7 separate regions of the Homo sapiens genome follow, and regions 1, 2, 3, 4, 5 and 7 are each linked to region 6. Evidence: fine-mapped expression QTL. A gene starts in region 6. Each other region holds a variant in brackets. All regions are shown on one strand. Distances are between the middles of the regions. Region 1 has its middle 16 kb from the start of NKAIN1. Region 2 overlaps SNRNP40 (small nuclear ribonucleoprotein U5 subunit 40). Region 3 overlaps SNRNP40 (small nuclear ribonucleoprotein U5 subunit 40). Region 4 overlaps LOC124903900 (a long non-coding RNA gene). Region 5 overlaps SERINC2 (serine incorporator 2). Region 6 holds the start of SERINC2 (serine incorporator 2). Region 7 overlaps NKAIN1 (sodium/potassium transporting ATPase interacting 1).

Evidence for each region.
Region 1: its variant is fine-mapped to the expression of SERINC2 in whole blood (INTERVAL, PIP above 0.99).
Region 2: its variant is fine-mapped to the expression of SERINC2 in whole blood (TOPMed, PIP above 0.99).
Region 3: its variant is fine-mapped to the expression of SERINC2 in whole blood (TOPMed, PIP above 0.99).
Region 4: its variant is fine-mapped to the expression of SERINC2 in whole blood (TOPMed, PIP above 0.99).
Region 5: its variant is fine-mapped to the expression of SERINC2 in whole blood (GTEx, PIP above 0.99).
Region 7: its variant is fine-mapped to the expression of SERINC2 in whole blood (INTERVAL, PIP above 0.99).

What each region holds. Positions count from the first base shown.
Region 1 is chr1:31,253,817-31,257,881 of GRCh38, reverse strand. No RefSeq gene overlaps it. Among named protein-coding and RNA genes, the nearest start is that of NKAIN1, 16 kb to the right of the region's middle. The variant G/A (reference allele first, on the strand shown) is at 1,862.
Region 2 is chr1:31,287,807-31,291,871 of GRCh38, reverse strand. It overlaps SNRNP40 (small nuclear ribonucleoprotein U5 subunit 40), which reads left to right. Exons shown (of 10, transcript NM_004814.3): 4 at 2,453-2,618. Among named protein-coding and RNA genes, the nearest start is that of SNRNP40, 6.9 kb to the left of the region's middle. The variant T/A (reference allele first, on the strand shown) is at 1,821.
Region 3 is chr1:31,263,539-31,267,603 of GRCh38, reverse strand. All of the region lies in intron 8 of SNRNP40 (small nuclear ribonucleoprotein U5 subunit 40), which reads left to right. Among named protein-coding and RNA genes, the nearest start is that of NKAIN1, 26 kb to the right of the region's middle. The variant G/A (reference allele first, on the strand shown) is at 2,493.
Region 4 is chr1:31,453,053-31,457,117 of GRCh38, reverse strand. The region is part of intron 1 of LOC124903900 (a long non-coding RNA gene); the gene reads left to right. Among named protein-coding and RNA genes, the nearest start is that of SERINC2, 42 kb to the right of the region's middle. RefSeq lists an enhancer at 2,646-3,845. The variant A/G (reference allele first, on the strand shown) is at 1,662.
Region 5 is chr1:31,431,561-31,435,625 of GRCh38, reverse strand. It overlaps SERINC2 (serine incorporator 2), which reads right to left. Exons shown (of 10, transcript NM_178865.5): 9 at 2,441-2,659; 10 at 948-1,562. The coding sequence ends at 1,427. All of the region lies in intron 1 of LOC124903900 (a long non-coding RNA gene), which reads left to right. Among named protein-coding and RNA genes, the nearest start is that of SERINC2, 20 kb to the right of the region's middle. RefSeq lists a silencer at 338-538 and an enhancer at 310-1,114. The variant T/C (reference allele first, on the strand shown) is at 1,591.
Region 6 is chr1:31,410,976-31,415,040 of GRCh38, reverse strand. It overlaps SERINC2 (serine incorporator 2), which reads right to left and starts at 1,828. Exons shown (of 10, transcript NM_178865.5): 1 at 1,737-1,828. The coding sequence starts at 1,775. RefSeq lists enhancers at 1-309, 1,580-2,080 and silencers at 1,804-1,863, 1,944-2,013.
Region 7 is chr1:31,219,030-31,223,094 of GRCh38, reverse strand. The region is part of intron 1 of NKAIN1 (sodium/potassium transporting ATPase interacting 1); the gene reads left to right. Among named protein-coding and RNA genes, the nearest start is that of NKAIN1, 19 kb to the left of the region's middle. RefSeq lists an enhancer at 341-841. The variant G/TG (reference allele first, on the strand shown) is at 2,341.

The DNA.
Region 1 (4,065 bases), 160 kb after region 6:
TTACTGCAGGACTGTTTAGAGCCTTTAATATACATAGTATGGTAGAATCTCCAAAGGGAATAGTGACTTTCAGATTTCTGGTCTGAGCAATATATATATATGGTTATGCCTTTAACCAGGAGAAATTTGGACAAAGGTAGTATGCAAGCTGCTTTTCACACCTCCAGCAGTATCACTGAACACTCCCTAATAATCCTTTTTAAGCACCAGGTCCACATACAGGTAGAACATCTGTCTTGGTCCATTTTGCATTGCTACAAAGAAACATCTGAGGCTGAGTAACTTAGAAGTTTATTGAGCTCACAGTTCTGCAGGCTGTACAAAAAGGGTGGCACTAGCATCTGTTTCTGGTGAGGACCTCAGGAAGTTTCCAGTCATAGTGGAAGGCAGAGGGGGAGCAGATGTATCACATGGCAAGAGAAGGAGCAAGAGAGGAGGAGATGTGCCATGCACTTATAAATAACCCATGAAAACTCTACCACAAGGAGGGCATCAAGCCATTCATGAGGAATACACCCCCTTGACCCAAATACCTCCACCTAGGCCCTGCCTCCAACATCGGGCATCAAATTTCAGCATGAGATTTGGAGGGAACAACTATCCAAACTATATCAGCATCCCTAATCCAAAATCCTAAATGCTCCAGAATTTAAACTTTGAGGGCCCATATGATGCCACAAGTGGAAGATCCCACACTTAATCTCATGTGACAGGTCGCAGTCAAAACTTTGTTTCAGCTGGACACTGGCTCACACCTATAATCCCAACACTTTGGAAGGTTGAGGTGGGAGGTTCACTTGAGCCCAGGAGTTTGAGACCAGCCTGGGCAATATAGCAAGACCTCATCTCTACAAATAATTTAAAAGTTAGCCAGATGTGGTGGCACACACCTGTGGTCCCAGCTACTTGGAAGATTGAGGTGAGAATCGCTTGACCCCAGGGGATCAAGGCTGCAGTGAGCTATGACCATGCCACTGCACTCCAGCATGGGTGACAGAATGAGACCCCATCTCCAAAAAAAAAATAACTTGGTTTCATGCACAAACTATTTAAAATATTTTACAAAATTATCAGGCTATGTGTATATGAAACAAATGAATTTTGTGTTTAGACTTGGGTCCCAAGATATCTCATTATATATATGCAAGTATTCAGAAATTGGGTGCAATGAGTCATGCCTGTAATCCCAGCACTTTGGGACGCCAAGGCGAGAAGATTGCTTGAGCCCAGGATTGCTTGAGATCAGCCTGGACAACATGGCAAAACCCTGTCTTTACAAAAAATACAAAAATTATCCAGGTGTGGTGGCATGCACCTATAGTCTCAGCTACCTGGGAGGCTGAGGTGGAAAGATTGCTTGAGCACAGTGGGTGGAGGCTGCAGTGACCCAAGATCCTGCCATTGCACTCCAGCCTGGGTGAGAGTGAGATCCTGTCTCAAAAAAAAATAGTAAAATCCAAAATCTATAACACTTATGGTCTCAAGTATTTTGGATAAGGGATATTCAACCTGTACTTGAAAACCGGTCCAGTCCCTTCCACCCACCCTCATCTTTTCTTGGGTTGGAATACAACAGGGCTTCAACCTTGACACTGCCCTTTTAAAAGCCTACCAATCCCTTGAGAAGTTGGCAGTGATTGGGAAGAGCCAAGACCCTGGAGACTGTGAGGGCTTTCCTCTAACCTCAGCTTCTTCAGTCCCCCCTCAGGTGCCTTCTTCAAGAGGCTGGGTAGAAGCCATTAGCAGGAAATAGCAGCACCATTTAGAATTTGAAGAAAATAGAAGCCCCAGCCTGGGGAATAAAGATTTGCGTATAAAAGATCCCCAGAGGGTGCAGATTGTATTCTCACTTTGGGAGAGA[G/A]AGATTGCTCCCGAATGAGTAATGGCATCCCTGATTTTCAGTTAATTTCCCTTTATGACTTCCACAATCTCTAGCACTTAATACTGTTGGCACTTAAAGAGCCAAATTTCTTTTTTGCTGCGTGGCTGAGTTTTGTGGGTTGAATTTTTAGGGAGGCAGATTTTCAGGTTATTTTTCCTTTTTTTTTTTTTTGGCCTCCCTGATATAATAACTACCTTTTCTCCTAGTCAGTAGCCCTAATCCCGTTCAGTCCCAACCCCCTAAACAGTTTATTTACAGGCCAGCCCATCAGAACAAAAATTGGTACTGTCTTCCCTCACCTACTTCCCCTGGTTGTTCAGGGATGGTCGATCCCTTTTCAGGTTAGAGAAGCTAATCCCTGAAGACCTTCATGGGCCTAGTGAAGTTATGCAAGGATGAGTCCTGTAGGGAAGCAGATCCAAGCCTCCAGACGTTGTCTTCTATTTCAAGTAAATAGGTAATAGGCAGAGTTGCTGGTTTCAAAGACAAGAACAATCTTTTTCAGGGATTGGATCTAATAAGCTAGAAAGAACAGGTAAAGGCTTATCAGAGTTGCTTCTTCACAACAAAACTATTTGCTTCTTACTAATAGACTAGAGTCTGCCGCTTACTAACATCTCAAAGTAGAAGAATGGGAAACTGAGGTAAAAGAGAGCTCTGAGCAATTTGGAGCCGTAGGCAGTTGAGCCTTAAAGAAAGGTTGTCAGGCCATTTGGGTTAGGACAGGATTGCTTTTTCCAAGAGTCTTTGGGGCTTGACAGCTGATGTCCCAGGAAGAGGGAGGAGCCTGACTTAAAATGGACAGCCCTGTTCCTGTGGAACCAAATGATGCCAGGTCTGAGCTCTTAGCCTCTTAGCCTGCCCTTTGATCAATTGTCTGTGAACCCCAGACACATAATGATGCTCCTCTGAAAGAAGCCTGCATGGATGGCCATCCTCTGCATCAAGCCCGGGGATGTTCCAAACTCTTTCTTCTAGGCTTCAACTTCTTTTCTTCAATTGACACTGCAACCCACCTAGACTCTTGCATTCTTTTTTAACTTAGATCTTCTAGAGCAGTGCTTCTCAATCTTAGGCAATTTTGCCTCCCAGGGAACAATTTGACAATGTCTGGAGCTATCTAGAGGGGTGCTACAGACATATAAGTGGGTAGAGGCCAGAGATGCTCAAAGAATTAACTGCTTTAGGATGTCATGAGTGATGCTTTTGAGAAATCCTGCTCTAGAGCAGTGATTCTCAAAGTGGGGTCCTGGATCAACAGCATCCACAACTTGAGAACTTCCTGGAAGTACAGTTTCTAGTGCCCCACCAAGGCCTGCCAATTAAATCAGAATCTCTGGCCGGGCGCGGTGGCTCACGCCTGTAATCCCAGCACTTTGGGAGGCTGAGGCGGGCGGATCACGAGGTCAGGAGATAGAGACCATCCTGGCTAACACGGTGAAACCCCGTCTCTATTAAAAAATACAAAAAATTAGCCGGGTGTGGTGGCGGGTGCCTGTAGTCCCAGCTACTCGGGAGGCTGAGGCAGGAGAATGGCATGAATCTGGGAGGCGGAGCTTGCAGTGAGCCGAGATTGCGCCACTGCACTCCAGCCTGGGTGACACAGCAAGACTCTGTCTCAAAAAAAAAAAACAAAAAACTATCCTGGCTAACACGGTGAAACCCTGTCTCTACTAAAAATACAAAAAAATTAGCCAGGCGCGGTGGCAGGCGCCTGTAGTCCCAGCTACTCGGGAGGCTGAGGCAGGAGAATGGCATGAACCTGGGAGTGGGGCTTGCAGTGAGCCAAGATCGTGCCACTGCACTCCAGCCTGGGCGACAGAGCCAGACTCCGTCTCAAAAAAAAAGTTAATTAAAATAAATAAATAAAATAAATCAGAATCTCTGAGGTGGACATCAGATTTTAAAGCCTCCTGAGGTGATTCCAGTGTGCAGTCAAGGCTGAGAACACTGGTGCTGGCCATGGCTAGAACTATAGTCAGGAGGGCAGCATAAAGCCAAGTTAACTTCTCCTTCAAGAAATTTTGGGGGAGTAAAGTGTTCAGTAGTCTGTGTTTTAGCAAGCCATCTGGGAGATTCTGGTGCAAGTTTGAGAACCACTGTTCTACAGGCTCGGAAAGTTTTAATCTTTCCTAGGAGAGTGCTAGAGCCTTGTCCTGTTTACTTATTAATAGTTGTCCTTG
Region 2 (4,065 bases), 120 kb after region 6:
TTCTTGGCGTCCTTTCACCTTTCATCCTTTCTCAGGAGACCCTGCTATCAAAAACTACTAATTTTGGGTAGCTACTTTAGTATCCGATTTATCACTGTCACCCCAAGTGAGGTGTTTATAGTCTGTGTATGCAAATATAAAGATGTTACATCGGTCATTTCAACAACCCAGACAAATTTTTCTTTTTTTAAGACATAAAATAAATGTGATTTTTATATGTAGGCTGGAGTGCAGTGACACAAACATGGCTCACTGCAGCCTCAACCTCTTGCTCGAGGGATCCTCCCACTTCAGCCTCCCAAATAGCTGGGGCCACAAGCCCACGCCTCCATGCCCAGCTAATTTTTAAAAATCATTTGTGGAGACATGGTCTTGCTATATTGCTCCTGAGCTCAAGCAGTCCACCTGCCTCAGCCTCCCAAAAATGCTGTGATTACAATAATTAACCACCATGCCTGGCCTGAAATCAGCTATTTCTATTATAAAAATCATTTCTTTTGAGAAACCAAAAAAAGCAGAAAGATGAAAAAATAGTCTATATTTCTACCACTCCAAAGATAATCAGTGTTAATTTTTTTTTTTTGAGACGGAATTTCACTCTTGTTGCCCAGGCTGGAGTGCAATGGCACGATCTCGGCTCACTGCAACCTCCGCCTCCCAGGTTCACGTGTTTCTCTTGCCTCAGCCTCCAGAATAGCTGGGATTACAGGGATGCATCACCGTGCCTGGCTAATTTTGTATTTTTTGTAGAGACTGGGTTTCTCCATGTTGGTCAGGCTGGTCTTGAACTCCCAACCGCAGGTGATCCGCCCACCTCAGCCTCCCAAAGTGCTGGGATTACAGGCATGAGCCACCGTGCCTGGCCAATCACTGTTAATTTTATACATTTTTCTAATGCCTTTTTTTCTACTCAGAACTGTTTAGTTGTTGCATATTTGTTAGAACTATGTGTACAATCTTTTTTATTTATTTATTTATTTTATTTTATTTTTTTGAGACGGAGTCTTGCTCTGTCGCCCAGTCTGGAGTGCAGTGGTGCGATCTCGGCTCACTGCAAGCTCCGTCTCCGGGGTTCACACCATTCTCCTGCCTCAGCCTCCTGAGTAGCTGGGATTACAGGTGCCCGCCACCATGCCCGGCTAATTTTTTTGTATTTTTAATAGAGATGGGGTTTCACCGTGTTAGCCAGGATGGTCTCGATCTCCTGACCTTGTGATCCGCCCGCCTTGGCCTCCCAAAATGCTGGGATTACAAGTGTGAGCCACCGCACCTGGCCAGAACTGTGTGTACAATCTTATTTGCTCCTTTTTTCTCTTAACATTGCTCAGCCAACATCTGATGTCATAAACGTCATTTTAATGACTATATTATTTTAGAATATATTATAGATAATATAGAAATCTGGCTATACAAAAGTAATTACATTGTTAGGTAGTCTGGTAAACATTCATTGTTTTACATTTCTGACCTCTAAAATCTTAGGGTGCTCCATCAATTGATACATAGCATTGTATACATTTTAAATAAAGCATTAGAAAGCTGGGCCTGGTGGCATGTGCTTATAATCCCAGCTATTTGGGAGGCTGAGGCAGGAGGATTCCTGGAGCCCAAGAGTTCAAAACCAGCCTGGGCAACACAGTGAGACTCCATCTCAAAAAAAATGAAAAAAGAAAGCATTATAAGATCAGTTATAACTTAGAAATCATCCTCAGAGGCTGGGCGTGGTTGCTTACGCCTATAACCCTAGCACTGTAGGAGGCTGAGGCAGGAAGATTGCTTGAGCCCAGTTCAAGACCAGCCTGGGCAACATAGTGAGACCT[T/A]GCCTCTACAAATGATTTTTAAAAATTAACTGAGCATGGTGGCACAGACCTGTGGTCCCAGCTACTCAGGAGGCTGAGGTGGGAGGATCACTTGAGCCCAGGAGGTCGAGGCTGCAGTGAGCCATGATTCCAACCCGGGTGACAGAGCAAGATCTCATCTCAAAAAAAAAATGAAAGAAAGAAATTGTCCTCAGAGACAAAAGAAAAACTTTGGTAAAGAGAAAAGATTGGAGTCACTCAGCTGTCAGGTCGGTACCACAGTCTGTCTGATCTCTGCAGCACCAGGGAGTTATTAAACATTTCCAAGTGAGAGGGTGTCTTATGTTTAAAATGTTAGCTATCACAAAAGAGGAAAAGATAGAGCAAACTGCTACATTAGATGTATGTCATGGGGACTCAAAGAAGGGGAATTTTTTAAACTTCACAGGGGTAGATCTTTTATCTGGGCCATCTGGGCCTAGAGGACAAATAGGATTTTGGTAGGGTGAGGCATTCCAGCATCATGGGCAAACTGGCGTAGCACAGCAGGTCAGTGATCTTGAAAAATTTGGCACCTTTTGTCAAGTAGGAAAGATAGATTGTTACTGTTTATCTTCACTTATTTCTTTTTTATTCTTTCTCTTACTTTCTAGTATGCTTTTCTCAGCATCCACAGATAAAACCGTGGCTGTGTGGGATAGTGAAACAGGTGAGAGGGTTAAAAGGCTAAAGGGACATACTTCCTTTGTGAATTCCTGTTATCCAGCCAGGAGAGGCCCTCAGCTTGTCTGCACTGGCAGTGACGATGGCACAGTTAAGGTGGGTATTGTCTCTCCGTGTTCCAGTTTCTGAGGTGATGTGATGTGAACCTTATCTTGCCTTGCCACTTGTACTCTAGCTTCCTGTGCAAAACTTAATTTTAGCAGTCATCTCCCATAACACACTTGAAATTTTTCCCCATTTAAAATAAAACATTTAATACAAGTTTTAATTACCCTACAGAATAATAATAGAACCATAGAATAAATTGTTACTTGAAATAGGCCGGGTGCTGTGGCTTACGCCTGTAATCCCAGCACTTTGGGAGGCCGAGGCGGGTGGATCACGAGGTCAAGAGATCAAGACCATCCTGGCTAACACGGTGAAACCCCGTCTCTACTAAAAATACAAAAAATAAGCCGGGCGTGATGGCGGGCACCTGTAGTTCCAGTTGCTTGGGAGGCTGAGGCAGGAGAATGGTGTGCACCCGGGAGGTGGAGCTTGCAGAGATTGCACCACTGCACTCCAGCCTGGGCGACAGAGCGAGACTCTGTCTCAAAAAAAAGAACTGTGACAGTAATATACGTGTCTTTCAAGGCTGTTATGAGTATCTCCACCAACAGGGAGGTAGCAAAAAAAAAAAAAAGGCTGTTCTGAGATTATAGACAATATATAAAAAGTTCAGTGAATAGTTTTAGTATGGCACAAGATGGGAACTTAAACATCGTTTAGTCAGATGGTTGCCAGCCTATCTTTATATCATCATCACCTGAAGAACCTGTTAAAAATACCCAAAGAATCTGGTTCAGTGGATCTGCAATGGGAATCAGATATTTTAATGTGTCCTTCAAGTGATTCAGTGTAGCCAGTCTCACATTCTGGGAGCCACTGATCTCACTGAGCATCCTCATTTTATAAATAAGGAAACTGAGGCCTAGAAATAATAATTTATCTCAGAGGCACACAAGGACACAGTACATCATAGTACCAACCATTTGATTCTCTCTTTGACACGAATTTTGGGCTCTGGTTTATATTTTAATTGTTAAACAGTGAGGGACTTCAAAAGAGTACATCTGGGAAACTACACCCCCATACTTCTTATTGCTTTTTAAATGAATTAATGAATTTGCTTTTTTTTTTTTTTCTTTGAGACAGGGTCTTGCTCTATCGCCCAGGCTGGAGTGCAGTGGCACAATCTTGGCTCACTGTAGCCTCCACCTCCCGGGTTCAAGTGATTCCCCAGCCTCAGCCTCTTGAGTAGCTGGGATTACAGGTGCACACCACCATACCTGCCTAATTTTTCTATTTTTGGTAGAGATGGGGTTTCACCATGTTGCCCAGGCTGGAGTGCAGTGGCGCAATCTCAGCTCACTGCAACCTCTACCTCCTGGGTTCAAGCAGTTCCCCTGCCTCAGCCTCCCTAGTAGCTGGGACTACAGGGACCCATACCACGCCCAGCTAGTTTTTGTATTTTCAGTAGAGGCAGGGGTTCATCATATTGGCC
Region 3 (4,065 bases), 150 kb after region 6:
AGATCACGCCGTTGCACTGCTCCAGCCCGGGCAGCAAGAGCGAGACTCCATCTCCAAAAAAAAAACAATGATATAGCTATGCAGGATGTCTTCTTGTGTTTTATACATAAAGCGTGGATATGGAGCTAGAGCAGACATAGAGTTATGACTGTGCTTGAAGATGAAGCTCTGTGCAGTATGAAGGGTTTCAAAACCGTGTTCGACAAACAGATCATTTCTACCCACTTTGGAGACATTTTAGACCTAGAGGATCAACAATTTGTTTGATTCTGTTGGGTTCCCTTTGCCATCAGAATAAAATTCAGTCTCATAATCTGTCTCTAGTTTCCCTCACCACATTTCTTATTCCATGCTTCAGTTCATTTGAACACATATTAAATACCCACCTCCCCCACCATCACCACAATGCTGCGCACATGGAATTTTCATATTCTAACCTCCTTTTGCGTTCTCACCTCTAGGTTCTCTCTCACATTCCCTCTTCATTATCTAAACTCCTATATCTCTCTAGTAACCACCTCTATGTTACATCCATAAACTGTCCCTGGTCCCCTCTCTCTATTACCTCTTGGAGATAACTAATTGTTCTTTGTGCTGTAATCCCATTTCATACATCTAAACTTTGGTAGCATTTATTACATCTTACAATCAGACAGACAAAGTGAGGTACCTCCACTAAGTTATTTTCTCCTAGAGATTAGGGAATGAATCTTAGTCATTTCTGTGAACCCATGGCACTGTTGTCAGTGCTTGAGCTTTTCTAACCAATTAGTTTATATTACATGAATGAATTCCTAGCTGAAGAATGGCAGTCCAATTTTACCCTGCATAGCAGCTCAGCTATTGGTAATGCCTGCCTGTGTTGGAGATGATTCAGAGCTGTGTCTGGGTTAGTGGGAAGTGCAATGATTGCTAGGTGCAGGGTGTAACAAAATGTGAACTAGGTATTTTCCACCCCATGCTGAATTAATCGGCTAAGGCTTTATGAAATACGAATCTAAACTGGCTCAGGCATTATGTGCTGAATGAGAAACAGAAGGGAGAGAATTCTTCTGTCAGATGCTGTTGTATTTGGCATGTCTGTGGTAACCTGTGCTTGGGGGAGAATCAGAGGTTGAATAGGGATGTCCAGGTGTCGAGTCTGATGGGCTGCAAATGAGGCCTGGTAAAGAACAATAAGACCCTCTGACAGCAAATCCTGTGTTTAGCTCTCATTGGGCAGTGTCTTGACCCTTTTTAGCTTAATCCTATCCTCCCCTTTAGAGTTTCTCTTTCAATCCTACTGAAACAAGCACCATCCTATAAATAGGAAGACTTTCTTGGGCTAGCCAGGGCTTTCAGCATATTCCAGGGTTTTCCTCTATTTGGGGCCCTAACGCTGCCACACAGAAGCTGCACTGTGATCTGTCCCATACCTTTCTATTAATGAATAATTCTGAACATATTTAAATTCCAGAGTCTACTTTTTTTTTTCCTGACAAGTTTAATGCCAAGAAAAATGGACAAGTATTCAGGTATTTTCTGGAGGAAAAAGAAAGGGTCCAGGTGAAAGTGTCACATTGATCATTTGAGTGCAAGTGGTTTAGAGAGCTGCCTAGAAGAGGGAAATCTAAAGAATTTTAAGTTATCAAGTTGCTAGAGAAGACTTCAAGAAACAGACTAAGGTGTCTCATATTCTGATATAGTAAGAACTATCCTAAGTATTTTTACATAATTTTCAGCAGAAAGAGTGTATCTTTTGTAATTAAATTTTTGTTTGTTTTTGAGATGTAGTCTCACTCTGTCGCCCAGGCTGGAGTGCAGTGGTGCAATCTCTGCTCACTACAAGCTCCACCTCCTGGGTTTACACCATTCTCCTGCCTCAGACTCCCGAGTAGCTGGGACTACAGGTGCCCGCTACCACGCCTGGCTAGTTTTTTGTATTTTTAGTAGAGATGGAGTTTCACCGTGTTAGCCAGAATGATCTCAATCTCCTGACCTCATGATCCGCCTGCCTCGGCCTCCCAAAGTGCTGGGATTACAGTCATGAACCACTGCACCCAGCTGTAATTAAATTTTTAAATTATATTTACATACTTTTTTTTTCTGATGAGCAGTTTGTTTCTGGCATTGGCCCTTTCTGAATTGCAATGTCCTTTTTTTCTCTTTTCCTCTCCACTGTTCCTTTAAACTTTACATGTGGTCAATGGTGCACACCTTTAATCCCAACACTCTGAGAGGCTGAGGTGGAAGGATGGCTTGAACCCAAGAGTTCAAGACCAGCCTGGGCAAGATGGCAGGACCCTGTCTCTATAAAAAAAATATTTAAAAAATTAGCCAGGCATAGTAGTGTGCACCTGTAGTCCCAGCTACTTGGTAGGCTGAGGCAGAAGGACCCCATGAGCCCAGGAGTTTGAGGATATAGTGAGCTGCAATCATGCCACTGCTCTCCAGCCTGGGCAACAGAGCAAGACCCCATCTCTTTAAAAAAAAACAAAATCACATGTGAAAGC[G/A]TGGTATGAGGAAAGCCTATCCCTCTCTACCTGCTGGGGGTTGGCAAGATTTGACAGGCCACCTCACCAATTGGCCCCAAGTCAAGAAGCAGCTGTGTTACATAAGGCTTCTGGTTCCTGCCAAATGTTGCCATGCCAAAGTAAGGAGAGGGCAAGGAACCCCTCTAAATTTAGCATCTAATTGGCAGCCATCAAGAGTGAGACCTTGAAGTGTAAACCCTTGGAGATCTGGGATTCTGTCTTTTATGTGCCTGGGAAATGTATCCTCAGAAAACTCCTTTTCAGCTTGGCCTGGATTTGGCAAACTTCTCCTTTCTACTAACTAATAACTTACAGATCACCTCCTCATATTCAAACTTGAAACTCTGAATAGTCCTATAGGCTACGGGAAGGCTGACCAGTCTCTCGGCCAAGAGTGATTTATTCAGCCCATTGACTTCATGAGATTCTGTTTTGATGATGAGTGTACTTATAATAACAATAGCTATAATTAATTCTGTGTGCCAGGCACTTTGCATATATTACCTCATTATTTTTCTCAACAAAGTTATGAGATCAATATTTTCTCCATCATTGTAACTAAGAAGCTTAGAGAAGTTAAATGATCTGCAATTATTTAACTTCTCTGAGCTAAGCTTACTTAGCTAGTAAATAGCTGCACTGAGACTTGAACCCCAGTCTTTCTGACTCCAGAGCTCATACTCTTTCACTATGCCATACTGCCCTTTATTGAATTAATGAGGACCAGCTTTTTGTGCATGACAAGAAAGAAGACAGTAGGAAGGGCATGAGTATCAGAGCCATGGAGTCTAGACAGATGGAGTTCCTGCTTCTCTTCCATCTTGTTCAGAACTTACTTTCTATGGAGCCTAGCTGATGACAGCTAAATAGTATAATTAAGAAGCTCTTGTTTATTTGCATTTTTGACCAAAAGTGTAAGTTGGATTAGAACTAGGCATTTTATAATCCAGTACTGGTGAATGTACCATTTTTATGATCAAGTACTGGTGAGTTGTTGATTGCACAAAACAAAATATGTAAATAATTTTAAATACCTGCTTCAAAACTACCAGCCCTTTATATTTACCAACAGATGAATTTTACATCATCAGATTAAGATAATAGCTCTATACTTTACCCTTTAATGACTTAAGCAAGATTGAGGGTCAAAGGAACTTTTTTTTTTTTTTTTTTTTTTAGCCAGTACATTTATGGAGGGTAAGTGAAAGTAAAATACGAGAGTATATTAAGAGCTCCAGAGTCTTGGGTTCAGCTCTGTAGTTTCTGTGGCTACTGAAGAGGTGGTCAGGAACATAGGAACCCCCTGCTGGGCTCCTGGTCACTTCTGTCTGCTCCATGGCAGGAAACCTTCAGCACAGGACATCAAGGCAAGCTTGAATAAGAAAAACAATTTCTTCTTCCTAAGCCATATCATATCAGTTATACAGAAGTACTACTTTGGGACACAGTCTTCAGGAGAGCCTAGATGAGCTCATAAAATCTCAGCAGTTCACTCAACTTGCCCTTCAAGTTTTACTTCAGTTTGATAAGGCTATAAAGTCATCATTGGCTC
Region 4 (4,065 bases), 42 kb before region 6:
AACGAACAAAAATGGTGCTAAAGAAAATTCAGAAGGAAAATGGATATTGCTAGACCAGAGAGAAATGTTATCCAAACCCCTTATGAGGGAAATCTTGTCCCAACTACATCAAGAGACCCACTGGGGGCCCCAAGCCATGTGTAACACAGTCCTCAGAGTTTATAAGTGCATAGAAATGTGTACCCCGGCCAAACAGGTTACAGACAATTGCTTAGTAAAAGATTACCACTTGGGGGAAGGAGTCCAGGCTTAAGCCCATTCCAAAGTATCCAAATCGATTACACAGAGAAGCCTCCAACTGGTCGTCTAAAGTATTTATTAGTAATAGTAGATCACCTTACTCATTGGGTAGAAGCTATTCCCTTTTCAAGTACAAATGCTAATAATATAATCAAGGCATTAGTTAAAAATATTATACCCAGGTTTAGATTAATAGAAAACAGTGATTCAGATAATAGGACTCATTTCACAGCACATGTCACTAAGAAATTAGCACAGATACTGGATATAACATGGGGATATCATACTCTCTGGCATCCACCTTCATCAGGGAAAGTAGGAAGGCATATTACCCTGTGAAGAGTCCGAACTGCTCCCCCAAAAGACAGGCCTGTCCCCTTATGAGATGCTCTATGGATTGCCTTATCTACATTCTACTACTGATCTCTCTACATTTAAAACAAAAGAACAATTTCTCAGAAATTATATACTTGGTTTATCGTCTACTTTCCCTTCCCTCAGAACTAAAGGTCTTTTAGCACAGGTGCCACCCCTAGAGTTTCCAGCACACCAACATCAGCCTGGGGACCACGTCCCTGTCAAAAGTTAGAGAAAAGGAAAAATTAGAACCAGCCTGGGAAGGATCTTACCTAGCGCTCCTAACTACTGAAACTGCAGTCCGGACAGCAGAAAAAGGGTGGACCCCTCACACTCGAGTCAAGAAAGCGCCGCCCCCTCCACGGTCATGGACCATAGTCCCAGAGGAAAACCCTACCAAACTAAAGCTAAGAAAAATTTAACTCTCTTTCATCTATTCTATTACTTCTTTCCTCATTCTATTGCTGACCACCTAGTTATTAATGTAACCAAGCCAATTTTGCCTCAAAATATTACATTTGATGCTTGCTTTGTTATACGCTGTGGAGACTTGCCAAGTCAGAAGCAACTCTCTGCTTCAGAAAAGTATATTTATCCTCCCTAGCTCTCCTTAGACTGGAAATCTGTTAACTGGGATAGGTTAGTTTGAGAAGAGTTTGACGAAGATTCCAGTATAAACTGGGAATCTTGTCCTTCTACAGCAGAGCTTCTCTGCTGAAGTTGGTCCATATAAAATACTATATGGACCTATAAAATACTAAAGAGCGAGGATGGACTGCTCCAACTAGTACTTGCAGTTTCTTAAAACCATATGTTCATTTTACTAAAGGAGTTATCCCTCCACATTGTCAGCTGAACCAATGGAATCCAGTACAGATGACCATCGCTGCTCCCCAGAGTTCTTCCCCTCCATTAAGCCATTTCTATGGTATAGGGGCAGAAGTCTCAGGGAACAACCCCCATAGGATCCTTTGAAATGCGCTTCATTGCCGCCTCACCTCCTCCACCCCCTTCTCCCTCTCTTAAGTTCTCCGCTAACCAAACCTTCTCTTGTTATATACCCA[A/G]TGATAAAACCAAAGTAGTTGTAGAGGTTAAAGATTTAAAACAAACTATAGCAATTGACACAGGGTATCAGGACACAAATGCTTGGCTTGAATGGATTAAATATTCTGTTCTCATGCTAAACAAAAGTGACTGTTAGACTTGTGTGACAGGCAGCCCAGAGACAGAGATTGTCCCCTTTCCACTTGGGTGGTCCTCTCACGGACCGGGCATGAGCTGTTATGGTAGCTCTCTTCCAAAACCCCACAGCCTGGGGTGATGAGTGATGGAAGACTCTTTCACTGCTGTTCCCTGAGGTTAAGAGCCCTGCGGGTCAGCCCCTGAGGTCCATCCAGCCTCCAGCCCCTGGTGTTTACTTCACCTCCTGCCTTTCATGGCAGAGGAAAAAGTTAGCATTCCTTGGAGACTTAACAGGGTGCAGTGAAACCAAGCCTTTTCAAGAGGTTACCCATCAGTCTGCCCTTGTTCATCCCCGAGCAGATGTGTAGTGGTATTGCAGGGGACTATTGCTGGGTACTCTGCCAAGTAATTAAAGCAGCACTCATGCTTTAGTCCAATTGGCCATCCCTTTCACCCTAGCATTCCGTCAACACGATTAAAAAAAAAAGAAAATCGTAAAAGAAGTGCTTCACATGGGTCCTTTGATTCCCATGTTTATATAAATGCTATTGGAGTTCCACCAGGAGTACCAGATAAATTTAAAGCCTGAAATCAAATAGCTGCAGGATGTAAGTCAATATTTTGGTGGGTAACAATTAATAAAAATGTAGATTGGATAAATTACATTTATTACAACCAACAGCAGTTTATTATAAACTACACTAGAGATGCTATTAAAGAAATAGCTGAGCAATTAGGGGCTACTAGCCAGATGGCTTGGGAAAATAGAATAGCCTTAGACATAATGTTAGCAGAAAAAGGAGGAGTTTGCATCATGATTAAAACTCAATGTTGTACCTTCATCCCAAACAATATTGCTCCTGATGGAAGTATAACAAAGGCATTGCAAGGTCTAATTGCTCTATCTAACGAGTTAGCCAAAAACTCAGGAGTAAATGACCGCTTCACCAGGTGGCTAGAAAAATGATTCAGTAAATGGAAAGGAATCATAGCCTCAATTCTTACTTCTCTTGCAGCCATAATAGGTATAGCCATTCTTTTCAGGTGTTGTGTCATACCATGCATCCATAGGCTGGTGCAGAGGCTCATAAAGGCAGCACTTACTAAAACCTCCTTTAATTCTCCTCCACCTTATTCAGAGAAGCTTTTTCTTTTAGAGAATCAAGCAGAACAACTAAGCCAAGACATGTTAAAGAAGTTTGAAGAGAAACAACTGTAAAATTTCAAGATGGGGGATTGTTAAAGATAGTGAACTCCAAGTTTCTTTTCAAAGAATCAGTATGTCAGTATGTTCAGCTCTCTTATTCTTTATTCTCCATTTTTAAGTCTAACTTCCTGGTTCTCTTGCCCTCCCCCCTTGCCTCTAGTTTCAGTAAACAACTTTCCTGCCAGTTCTAATCAGTAGTTCACATCTGTTCCCCTGGTCACCTGCTTTGACCCGAGTCACCCCTGGCCACCTGCTCCATCTTGAGTCACCCCTGTCACCTGCTCTGACCTGAATCATCCTGAGTCACCTGTTCTATAACTGCCCTTCCTGCCAAACTACTCACCCTGACACTCTGGCTCGTACCCCTGCTCTCTTTAAAATACCCCATCAGAATTAGCTTAGACTGTGCGGTCCAATCCTAGCCAATAGGGGAATGACACAACAGCAGGGGCTACCTGCATCAGGAATAAGAACCACTTCCCTTCCCTTGTTCAGGCATGCTTTCGCCATTACTCCATCCGCAAGTCGCACCCTTCTATAGAAGTAAAAATTGCCTTGCTGAGAAAATTAAATTTATGTTCAAGTGCATTTCTTTGCAGCATCGAGGAACAAGCATTTGTTACTAACACCCTGAACGACCAATAACAAGCAACAGGATTGAAATGGTAAGAAAAAGTTAGCTACAAAAAAAAGTCCAGGATCAGACAGATTCACAGATGAATTCTACCAGACTTTCAAAGAAAAATTGGTACCAATCCTGTTGACACTATTCCACAAGATAGAGAAAGAGGAAATCCTACCCAAATCATTCTATGAAGCCAGTATCACCCTAATACTAAAACCAGGGAAGGACATAACCAAAAAAGAAAACTACAGACGAATATCCCTGATGAACATAGATGCATAAATCCTTAACGAAATACTAGCTAACTGAATCCAACAACATATGAAAAAGATAATCCACCATGATCAAGTAGGTTTCATACCAGGGATGCAGGGATGGTTTAAAATATGCAAGTCAATAAATGTGATACACCACATAAACAGAATTTAAAACAAAAATCACATGATCATCTCAA
Region 5 (4,065 bases), 21 kb before region 6:
CCCCACAGGTCCCCGTGCAGCCCCACTAGTCACTCACCCCAGAACCCAGGAGAGCCTTAGAGACAGGCTGTGTCCCCAGCACCCATCCCCAGCACCTTCATACCTATTTTTTATCCCCACAAATGGAAGGGATGAATGGCCTGCAGTCCATCATCGTAACAAGACCAGGCCTTGGGGCCCTAGCCAGGAGCCTGTCAGTCTCCCTCACATCTCTCTGCCCTTGTGAGATGGGGGCTGATGTTATTTCTCAAGAACTCGCTGTGCCAGGCAGATTGCATGGGCTGCTTCCTCTGATCCTCACAACAGCCTAGGAGGGGTGGCATTGTTCCCATTGAATGAATGAGGAACCAGGGCCCAGAGAAGAGAAGGACCCATCCGGAGCCGGACAGCAGCCCCGCGGCTGCCGTGGTACGGAGGGATCTGGGCCAGCCTGGCTGACTCAAGAGCACATGCTCCTCCCCACAGCACCCCGAGGCCTGGGGCTTGACTGGTCAGGGCAGGTACCAACGGTGGTAACAATTCCAGGCAGGTCAGAGGTGGGCAGGACCTTGAGGCAGGCCCTGATGAGAGGGGACCTGAAGACCACCTTCTGGCCCTGTCATCGCCCCCTCCTCCCCACCGTGACTCTCTTTCACTGCCCTCCCTCGGATGGTTGGATGGTCGGGCAGCCTCCTGCTGGCCCCACTGCCTCTAGGGTCTCCTTTTCTGACCACCAGACACACCCTACTTTCCCAAAACCCTGGTCTGCCCCTCCTTCCTCATTGGCCCCCTCCCCTCAGGCGCTCCATGACCCAGAAGACAGAACTCAGGCCATTCTGTCTGCCTTTGAGGCTCCTCCTGGTCTGGCCCTGATGTCCCAGCCTCCTCAGCCCTAACATTCTATTCCCAAACCCCACACCGGCCCCCATGCAGTGGGGCTCCGTGCTGAGGGTGAGGGGCACAGAACATGGTACACGCACTGGCTTGTTTATTAGAAAAAGTCTTAGAGACTCAGTAAGGCACGAAGTCCAGGAAGTGGGCAGGGTCCCCTGGGGGACGTGACCAGGAACACCAGGGCTTCAGTGCCGGATGCCCCACTGTGGTGGGAGTTCCCCGCTCTCTCCAGCAGCCCCGCTCCCGTGGAGCCTGAGGACAAGGGAGCCCTTTCATCCGAGATGCTGAGTATGGGCAACAGGGAGGAGGGGAAGGAAGAGGCAGCTCCACCGTGTGGGTGTGGCGGGGGGATGGGGCTCTGCAGGAGCCTGATGCTCCTCGGACCCTGAAGGCACTACGACTAGAAGGCCCGGCTCAGGGGCAGGTCCTGGAGCTGGGGCAGGGGTGGGGGCTCAGCCTGGCTGATTGGTGTGGGGAGGGGGCAGGTTGGCTGTCACTGAGCCGAGAGGCACCAGGTGGCAGGAGGCACCAGATGGCAGGCTGTGAGGCTGCCTCAGCTGAAGTCGCGGTTGCGCAGGAGGAGTGGGGCTACCAGGGTCCACAGGTAGAGGAGCAGCCCTGCCCAGCTGGCACAGATCTTCACCCACACGGCGGTCCACGTGCTGATCATCTTCCGGGTCTCACCGGGCCTGGAACACACCATCTTCCCCATGAGCC[T/C]GGTGCCCAGTCTGGTGACTTCCATCTTGGCCCCTGGCCTTATGTCCCAGTTATGACCCCTGACTTCAACTCTGGCTCTTACCCTGTAACTCCAGTCCATCTCTGACATTTTTAACACCCGGCCTTGTGACCGTGGACATAGCTCCTGACCTCGATTCCCATCTTGAGCCCAGTGTTAGTCCATGAGATCATGACCTGACTCCTGGTCTCCAACCTTGTGATCCTAATTCTGGGACCTCAATCCTAGCCTCTGAACTTGGGACCCTGGAGCTCCTGACCTTAGTCCTGACCGCTACCCTTGATTCTGACCTTTGATCCTGTAACTTAGGGGTGGCCCCTGACCTTATTACTGTCATTTAGCTCCTTGACCTTGCCACTTCAATCCTGGCTTTATGACCTCCTACTCTCAATTTTAACTTTAACCAAATGACCAAATTTGTGACACTAAATGACCACAATCCCAGCCCCAGACCTCATGACTTCTATCCTTGACCTTGTAACTTTGGTTCTGCACTCCACACCCTGATCCTAACCCTCCAACCATGAAGCCCAAATCTGACCCCATGACCCCTGATTTGTAAACCCCGCCTGCCCTGTACAGGTCCAGCCCCAGCTGCTGTGCCTTCCCCGGTTCAGTCTCCTAGTGAAGGTGCGGGAGCTGAGCAGATGAAGGCACTGTTGGGGAAACTGTAGCAGGGAAGGGGCAGGCTCTATGGAGGGTCCTTGATACACACCGCCACCCCCAAGCCTTAAGCAGACATCAGGAAAACCCAGTGAAGGGCCGCAGGAGAGATGTGTGGACCTGCACCCTGCACCTCCGGGCTCTGTCCATGCCCCACCAGCTACGCACTTGTACCAGTTGGTGAGCGTCATCATGACGTGCAGTGAGGCCAGCACCAGGCAGAAGTGGAAGAAGGAGTAGCTGTAGGTGACGCCGTCCTGCTCGTTGTCAAAGGCCCGGCCCTCACAGGCTGCCACCTGCTGCTGCTGCTGTGTGGCGTCTAGCATAGGTGGGCACTCCTCGGTCTGCATCAGGCTGTTCACCTGCCGGTGGTCTGAGGAGCGCAGACTGCAGGGGAGGGAGGAAGGTGGGCAAATAGATAGCTCTGGCGTTGCTCATAACACTGGACACAAATGGTCCCAGAGCCTCAGAGGCCAGCGACCCGGTTACTGGGCCTGGGAGTTAACAAACTGCTTTGCCTCTCAACTCTACCCCTACCCCCACTCCCATTTTCTGTGTGACCTTGAGCAAAACACTTAACCTCTCTGAGCCTCTGATTCCTTGTCTGTAAAATAAGGGATAATCGTACCTCCTCTAGAGGGCTGCTGGGGGGACTAGACGGAATAATGATGTAAGGTCTCTAGCATAGTGCTTGGCACAGAATATAAATTCAATCAACAGTCACTATTGTTAGGATTGTTCCTTTGCCATTTCCATAAACACGTATCGAGTACCTAATACTACAAAGTACCATACCAGGTACTACATCCATTAAGAATGTTAATAATTAATCACGCTCATTTGCCATTGATTTTAAGTTTCCATTTTATTAGTGTCAGGTGGTTTTACCAATGGCCTCCCTTTCCTTCATGCTTACACTAAAAAAAGAACAACAGTAATGATTGTATGTCATGCTTTTCTGTGATGAGCCTTGATGTTTTTAACAGAATTTGATAGTTTGAGACATAAAAATTTTTGAAAAACCAACTCACGTTTCCAAACAAAAGTGAAAAGGAGAGCTGGATTCCAGCCCCGCCACCCCAGCAAATTGAGAAATCACCCCTTGCTGTGAGTCAGTGGGTCCCTATCCACCCTCTCCACCCTGTCCACTCTCTCCACTCTAACCACCCTATCCACCCTATCCACCCTATCCACCCTGTCCACCCTGTCCACCCTGTCCACCCTATCCACCCTAACCACCCTATCCACCCTGTCCACCCTGTCCACCCTAACCACCCTGTCCACCCTGTCCACCCTGTCCACCCTGTCCACCCTGTCCACCCTGTCCACCCTGTCCACCCTATCCACCCTATCCACCCTATCCACCCTATCCACCCTATCCACCCTATCCACCCTAACCACCCTAACCACCCTAACCACCCTATCCACCCTAACCACCCTATCCACCCTATCCACCCTATCCACCCTGTCCACCCTGTCCACCCTATCCACCCTATCCACCCTATCCACCCTATCCACCCTATCCACCCTATCCACCCTGTCCACCCTGTCCACCCTATCCACCCTATCCACCCTATTCACCCTCTCCACCCTCTCCACCCTATCTACCAAATACCATATGGATATCTCATGCATGGGAGCCCAGATTGGGTGGTCCTGGCCCTCATGGGTTGCATATGCTTCTTTGCTGCCTGTGCTGTAAGAACCATGCTAAGAACAGACCTGTGCCCCTGGGCTCTCAGCAGTGCATGTGCCAGGGAGCTGTGGGTGTGGAAGCAGCAGGAAAAACAGCT
Region 6 (4,065 bases):
AGAATGCTGTAACTCAGAGACCAGCACTTGGCTTTGCATTGTCTCCAAATGGAATTCTCCACCCACCTTTCCTTGATGTTAGCAATAATTCCCACAAGGAGCACTCACGATATGCCAGGAACTGTGCCTCATCTCCCAACAGCATTGTGAGAAAGGCCCTGTTACTGTCAACTGCCAGATGGGGTGACCAAGGCACACAGGGCTGGCAGGCTGCCCCTCAACATCTCCACCCCCAGGCCAGCCCAGCAGGGCCTGTGCCTCACCAGGTGCAACCGATGGAAATCAGGTCCACTGTGGAAGCTCTGCCTCCCTCACCAGGAAGCAAACCCTTGTTGGCAGAGACCTGGCCCAAACCTTGAATTCTTTGGGCTGGGAGGGATTTCAGGCACCAGCTTGATTCCTCCTCCTGCACACGCACATGCACACGCACACACACACACGAAAAATGGAGGCCTAATGAGGCGAGAGGCTCTCTTGCCTCTCTGTGCTGTCTATGCTGATCTCATTCTCAGAAAAAGGCTGTAAAGTAAATCTCTAGACCCTCAGCTCTCCCCTACACCCCCTCCTCTCTCTCTCTCTCTCTCTCACACACACACACACACACACACACACACACACAACCCGTCAGGGACAAAGGAAAGCGAGTCCCGAGATTCAGCAGCCGCTGCAGCCCCTTCTCCCTCTCAGGGCCTCTTTGTGTGGGGCCAGAGGGGGAGGGGGCTGCCTGAATGAACCTCAGATTTAATGAGGGGAAGAGGAAAGGAGAGGGGGGCTGGGGAAAGGGAAGGGAGAACGGGCCTCCCAGCCGGGGTCTTGCTGGAGCCCCTCCCCTCTGCGGCTGCAGCTACAGAACAGAGGTTGGCCTCCCCACAGGTCCCGAACCCGCGACCGGGCACTCCCCGCGCACACCCGAACCTCCCTCGATTCCTGCTCTCCCAACCCAGAGTTCCGCCCGGTGGTCCGTGACGACCCGCACCCGCCTCACTCGAGGGCAGCTAAGAAAGTCCGGGGCTCCCTCCGCTCCCATCCCAGTCTCCGCGCTGGGGCCCAGATGATCCGGGGCGAGCTGGGGAAGTGCCTGAGAGGCAGCGCGAGCCAGACTGAGGACGGTAAAGGGACCGCAGAGAGACTGAGGGACGGACGGGCGGACGGGCAGACGGACAGAAGACAGCAGACGGACAAAGACAGTCGGACGAACGACGGACACAGACAGGAACCAGACAAATACGAACGGACAGGCGGAGCCCGAGCGACAGGAACAGGCGGACTGGCAGGCGGCCAGAGGGGTAGGGCAGGGCACTCGCCAGGAGGGACGGGGCCCGGGCGACCTACACAGAGAACCAGGGCGTCCGGGACGGGGACAGAGGCCACCCCGAGGACCGCCCCAAGTGGGGCGACGAGGGCCCACAGAGCTGCCCCGACCCCGGGCTCCAGGCTTAGTCTCTCCAGGTCCCAGGAGGGCGCCCGCCGAGGGCACTCCCCTCCTGCCCGCGGAAACCCGAGCCGGGACCGCAGCTGCCCGGCGCCTGCCGGCCAGGACTGAGCAGGGGGACGGGGGCAGCGGGATCCGGGTGCCGAGTGAAGGTCCAGGAGGGCGAGCAGGCGGGGCACCGGCCCAGAAAGACAAGTTTGCAGGAAGGAAAAAGAAGAAACTACTCGGAGCAGAACAGAAGAAAGTGAGGGCCCGCAGCAGGAACGGGCGGCGCGCGCGGGCGGGCGCCGGGGTCGGGACTCACGCAGCTGAGCAGGGAGCAGGCTCCCAGGCAGGCCCCCATGGCGGCGGCTCCCGGCTTCGGGCGCCCGGCGCCGGGCGCGGGGCGCGGACCTCGGGATCCGGGTGCCGGGCCTGGCCCCTCCCCGGCCCCGGCCCCGCCCCGGCCCCGCCCCACCTACCGAAGCCGCTCGACGCTTTCCGGCGGCGCTCGGGGCCTCCCCAGACTCACCTGGGGCAGGTGCGCCAGGAGGGACCCTAGGGAAGGGGCCGGTCGGGGATTCCCGCGGCCACGCGAGCGGCGCAACCTGACCCAATCGTGGCCCGGGCTCGCATCCTGCTCCAAAGTGAGCGTTCGGAAATCGACCTCGGTTTGAGCCCGTGTGACCCCAGGACACTGTCACCCTTGGGAACAGAAGCCAAGAGGTGGTCACCGCTGACTCCTCAGTGCTTGGCGCAGGGCCTCTGCTCAATACGTAGATGCTGAGGTTGAATGCTGAATGACTGGATAAAGAAACTTCGGCAAGTCACTGCACCTCTATGAGCCTCAGTTTCCCGGTCTGTAAAGTGAGGATACATACCTCACAGGGTGGTTACAACACATGGTAGGTGCTTGACAAATGTAAGCCCCCATCGTCACTGTTTTCTTCTTCCTTTTTAAGAGACAGGGTCTTGCTCTGTCACCCAGGCTGGAGTGCAGTGGTGCAAACATAGCTCACTGCAGCCTCGACCTCCTGGGCTCAAGTGATCCTCCTGCTTCAGGCTCCTGAGTAGCTGGGACTACAGGTGCATGCCACCATGCCCACCTACTGCTTCTTCTAAGACCCCAGCCTCTCACTCTAAACCCATCCTCCCTTCTCTCCATCTGTTCTTCAAACTCCACTGACTCCCAACAGCCTGCTGGGAGCTACACACTCCCTACAGCCACCCCTGCTTGGTGGCTTATCACTCCCTAGGGATGCCCAAACTGGTCCCTAGCTAAGGAGGTCAGAAGGTGGGGAGGGGCGGCCACATTCCTGACAGATGGCTTTCCAGGGGTAGGTGTGAGAGACCCAGAAGTAGGGCTCTGTAATTAGTCTCCCTTCACCCTTAGCCCTGTCCTCAGCCACCTCTGGACAAGATAATGTTAGGGAAAGAAGTCTCTGTGCCTCGAAGCTGGCCCCAGGGCCAAAGAGCTGGTTGACTGCATCCTTGGCTGATTCACTGGGCGCCAGGCTTAGCCATTAATTGCACCAGGACTGTTCCACAAACACACCCTATACTTTTCCTCCTCCGCACTTTTGCCCACACAATGCCCTCCTCTTTTTTTTTTTTTTTTTTTTTTTTTTTGAGACAGGGTCTCACTCTGTCACCCAGGCTGGAACACAGTGGCCCAATCATGGCTCACTGCAGCTTCAACCTCCTGGACCCAAGTGATCCTCCCACCTCAGCCTCCCAAGTAGCTGTGACCACCAGTGTGTACTACCACACCCAGCTAATTTTTTAAAAATTTTGTGTAGAGATGAGGTCTCCTTATGTTGTCCAGGCTAGTCTCGAACTCCTGGGCTTAAGCAATCCTCCTGCCTTGGCCTCCCAAAGTGCTGGTATTACAGATGTGAGGCACTGCACCTGGCAGATGCCCTCCTCTTAAAGGTCCTTCTCCTTATCCCTCTTTCTCCCCTTTGAAGCTTGCTCACATGCCATACCTCTCAGTGAAGAGAGCCACCACCCTCACCCCCAACCCACTACCTGGTTCCATTAGGAATGAACATCCTCCTGATTCCCCCAAGCCTCCAAACAATATGGGCCTCCCTTATGGCCTCACAAACAACCCGAGCACATGCCCAACTTTCCCCCGTGGTACCATTTGAGCCCCACAACAGCCCTGAGAAGTCGATTAATTCCCCACCCACTCGTTTACAGATGAGGAAACCGAGAAACAAAGAAGTAGTGACACGCGAAATGTAAATCAAGCGTCGAATAAACGTTGACTGTGATCACTGTGGTTGTTGTTACTATTGCTGAAGGCCACACAGCTCAGAAGAAACAGAGCTGAAAGGCAACCTGGCCTGGCTTTCACCCTGATGTCCTACTGCTTCCCTTGAAAAAGTAGAGGTGACAATATCTAGTCTTCCTATTTTTCTGTCCAGCAATATTTCAGTCCTTCCCTAACCCGAGGCCTTTAGGGGACTGTGAGCCACCCAAGAACGGTCTGCTCTCTGGCCACCCCCTCTCCTACCCAGAGCACAGTACAGGGCCTGGCACACAGTCAAGCAGTGAATGCTTACTGGATGAATGTCTGACCTTTTACCATAAGTCCACTTTCCTCCTTCTTCTGTGACTGACAGTCTGATCCAAAAACATACCCTACACAG
Region 7 (4,065 bases), 190 kb after region 6:
GTTTATGGAGCATTTCTGATCCCAGAGCCGCTGCTTTTCCCCAGCAAGTGTCCCAGCATCAAGGAGTAGCCGCCTGAGAGCAGGTGTTCCTCCCTCCCTGAAGAAAAGAGGACAAGACGCAGGGAGGTGCCAGGCACTGTGCATCTCACTTCAGATGCATTTCCTCAGTTGGTCCTGCAGTAACCCTAAGAGGTAGACACTATTATATGGATACTATCTCCCATGTACAGATGAGGAAACTGAAGCTCAGGGAGTGACAGAGCCTGCCCAACATCACACAGTATTTGTTCAGGACTCTAACCCAGGCCTTTTGGACTCCAAACTCCTTGAACTTTGCACTTCACCAGGTTTGAGGGTGCAGTTTGCTCTCTCTTCCTTTCCCCTCTCCTGAGCTTCAGTTTGGGCCTCAGTTGTTCTGAGCTTCCTTGTTGGGGAGCCTTGAAAAGCTGTTTAATGTGCTCCTCTGCATCCGTCTCCTGGTTGAAGAGGATGCATTGAGTCCTCCTGTTCCTCTTCCTCTCACCCTGCACCAGCTGAAGAAAGAATGGGAGAGCCCCACCACTGGTGACGGGTCACCACCCCCAGATGGGTCCATACCCTGCCTTGGCAAAGGAAAGTGAAGGCCTGGCAGATGACAGTCTCTGGCCTCTTGACCCTCTGTAGGACTGTGCCCCCTTTATCTGAGTGACAGGTGGTCACCCTGGCAACAGGCCCTTTGCCCAGCAGGGGTCCCTGACTTCCCAGTAGCCACTTCCCTTTCACGTGTGAAGATACACACATGTTCTGCAGCCACAGCAGCTCTGTCCAGCTGGAGGGAGTCTCCATGTCAGGCCAGCTTTCAGATGTGGGTTTTTACCAGCCCCTCACCAGACTGCCCTGGACCCAGCCTGCGCAAGCAATCTTAATAAAATGCAGTTCTGCTGGGCACAGTGGCTCACGCCTGTAATCCCAACACTGAGAGGCCGAGGCGGGTGGATTCCCTGAGGTCAGGAGTTCAACACTAGCCTGGCCAATATGGCGAAACCCTGTCTCTACTAAAAATACAAAAATTAGCCAGGTGTGGTGGTGGGCGCCTGTAATTCCAGCTCCTCAGGAGGCTGAGGCAGGAGGATTGCTTGAACCCGGGAAGTGGAGGTTGCAGTGAGCCAAGATCGCACCACTGCACTCCAGCCTGGGTGACAGAGTGAGACTCTGTCTCAAAAAAATAAAATAAAATAAAATGCAGTTCTGATACTGCCTCGCCTCTGTTTAAACCCTACCCCTGGCCCCTCATTGCCTTCAGGATAAAGTCTAAAGCTGTGTTTCTCAAACTTTAGCATGCATCAAAAGCACTTGGAGGTTTGTTGAAATATGGATTTCCAGGTCAGGTGCAGTGGCTCATGCCTGTAATCCCAGCACTTTGGGAGGCCGAGGTGGGCAGATCATGAGGTCAAGAGATCGAGACCATCTTGGCCAACATGGTGAAACCCCGGCTCTACTAAAAATACAAAAATTAGCTGGGCTTGGTGGCGCGTGCCTGTAGTCCCAGCTACTCGGGAGGCTGAGGCAGGAGAATCGCTTGAACCCGGGAGGCGGATGTTGCAGTGAGCCGAGACCGCACCACTGCACTCCAGCCTGGCGACAGAGCAAGACTCCGTCTCAAAAAATATATATATATGGATTTCCAGGCTTCACCCCCAGAGTTTCTGATTTAGGAGGTCTGGGATGGGGGCCAAGAATGTGCATCTCTAACAAGTTCCAAAGTGATGCTGATGCTGCTAGTCCAGGGACCACACAATGAGAATTATTCGTCTAGACCAGAGAGACACTGAAAGCCTGCCCAGGCTTGCCTGCTAACCGAAACTTACCACTTCCGTGTCCCTAAACTCAGGTTGCATGGACCTAAACACCCTGGGTTGTTTCACACCTCAGAGCCTTTGCCATTTGCTGTGCCTGCCTCTCTGGAAGCTCTTTCCTTCTTTATCTCCTAGGCCTGCTAATCCATCATTTCATCCTCGGAGCATCTCTGTACTCCCGCATGCTCACCACACTGACTTCTTCCTCTGGGCCCTGACAACTTGTCCCCTGCCTCCATCACAGCAGGTACTATGCTGTTGTAATTCTGCTCTATTTCCACATCAAATCCCTCTCCCTGGACTGGGAGCTCCTTGAGGCCTGGAAGTGTCCACTGAGTGTGGACATGGAGTGTGGCCCTCAGAAGGAACTCAGTGAATGTGTGATGCTTGAATGAACCCCAAGAGCAGATGGAAGGCCCAGGTGAATAATCACAAATCACAAAGTTTCATAGTTTATCCAGCCAGTCAAATATTCACTGGATGCTTTTTTTTTTTTTTTTTTTTT[G/TG]GAGATGGAGTCTTACTCTGTCGCCAGGCTGGAGTGCAGTGGCACTATCTTGGCTCACCGCAACCTCCACCTCCCAGGTTCAAGTGATTCTCCTGCCTCAGCCTCCCAAGCAGCTGGGATTATAGGTGCATGCCACCACACCTGGCTAATTTTTATATTTTTAGTAGAGACAGGGTTTCGCCATGTTGGCCAGGCTGGTCTCAAACTCCTGATCTCAGGTAGTCCACTGGCCTCGGCTTCCCAAAGTGCCAGGATTATAGGCGTGAGCCACCGTGCCCGGCCACTGGGTGCTTATTCTGTGCTAGGTAGGTGCTGGGGATACGGTAGTATGGGAGGCAATGTCCCTGCCCATGTGGACTCAGATGCTATCAGTGATCATGTTGGGACACAGATGGTGAGCATTATACAGGAAAAGAAGATCGTAAAAGATCTGAATGTTGCCAGGTGTGGTGGCTCACGCCTGTAATCCCAGCACTTTGGGAGGCCAAGGTGGGCAGATCACCTGAGGTCAGGAGTTCGAGACCAGCCTGACCAACATGGAGAAACCCCGTCTGTACTAAAAAAAAAAAAAAAAAAAAAATTAGCTGGGCGTGGTGGCACATGCCTGTAATCCCAGCTGCTCAGGTGGCTGAGGCATGAGAATTGCTTGAACCCGGGAGGCAGAGGTTGCAGTGAGCCGAGATCACGCCATTGCACTCCAGCCTGGGCAACAAGAGCAAAACTCCATCTCAAAAAAAAAAAAAAAAAAAAATCTGAGTGTTCTGAAGCAGGTTTAGCAGCAGTGGCCAGGGTGGAGTTGAATAGCCTGTGCAAGCAAGGCACAAACATTTCACAGACCTTACTGCACTCATTTGCTCCTTCATACAACTCTGCTAGGCAGAAACTGTCATCCCTGTTTTACAGATGGGCAAGTGGGAACCAACAGGGGAATTTGCTGGGCCACAATCACAGCCAGCACATGGCAGAGCTAGGACTTGAACCTGGATTTCCTGATCCCAAGCTCTCCAAACCCTTGGGCTACTCCTGGAGTCTAGGCACCTGTGTGGCCTGAGACCTTCCTTTGGGAATGTGTCTCCAGTGATGATTTACGAGTTTGCTCACAACAGACACCACAGCCCCGCTACAGGGGACCTGGGCGGTACCGGAAGCATTAGGGGGCCTTCTGTGGCCCTCCTCTGGCCATGCCCCTTTCCCCAGGGCGGGCAGTCCACAGGATCAGGGGGACATGCTCACTGGAAACCTATGCCTACGCTCCCACCCTAGACTCCACCCCAGATACTCAGGACCCCAGATTCCCCCATCCAGTCAGCCCCAAGCCCACTGTCAGGGCGTGCCGGGGCTTCTCCAGAGGACAGCCTGCGCTGCCAGTGTGTGTATGTCCACCCATAGACAGCGCCAGCTGCTTGGAAGGAGGGGCAGGTGTGGACATAGCTTACACATGTGTCCTAGGATCCAGACCTGCGTATGAGACCCCAGCCAGAAATGGGACTGATAGCTGGGGCTGGCTTTCCCATATGCTGAAAGATGCTACTACCTTCTGGCTCAAAACTCCAAGAAGTCAGAGGAATTGAAATTCACAGCCTGGCCTACCAGACCATTAAGTCTATTAGAAGACAGAACATATATTTAGGAGGTTGTTAGTTTGGTTTGTAACTTAGATATTTAGGCATGTGAGGGGTAGACCCGCATTGGTGCTCCTGCCCTGGTCCACAAGGCCCCCAAATG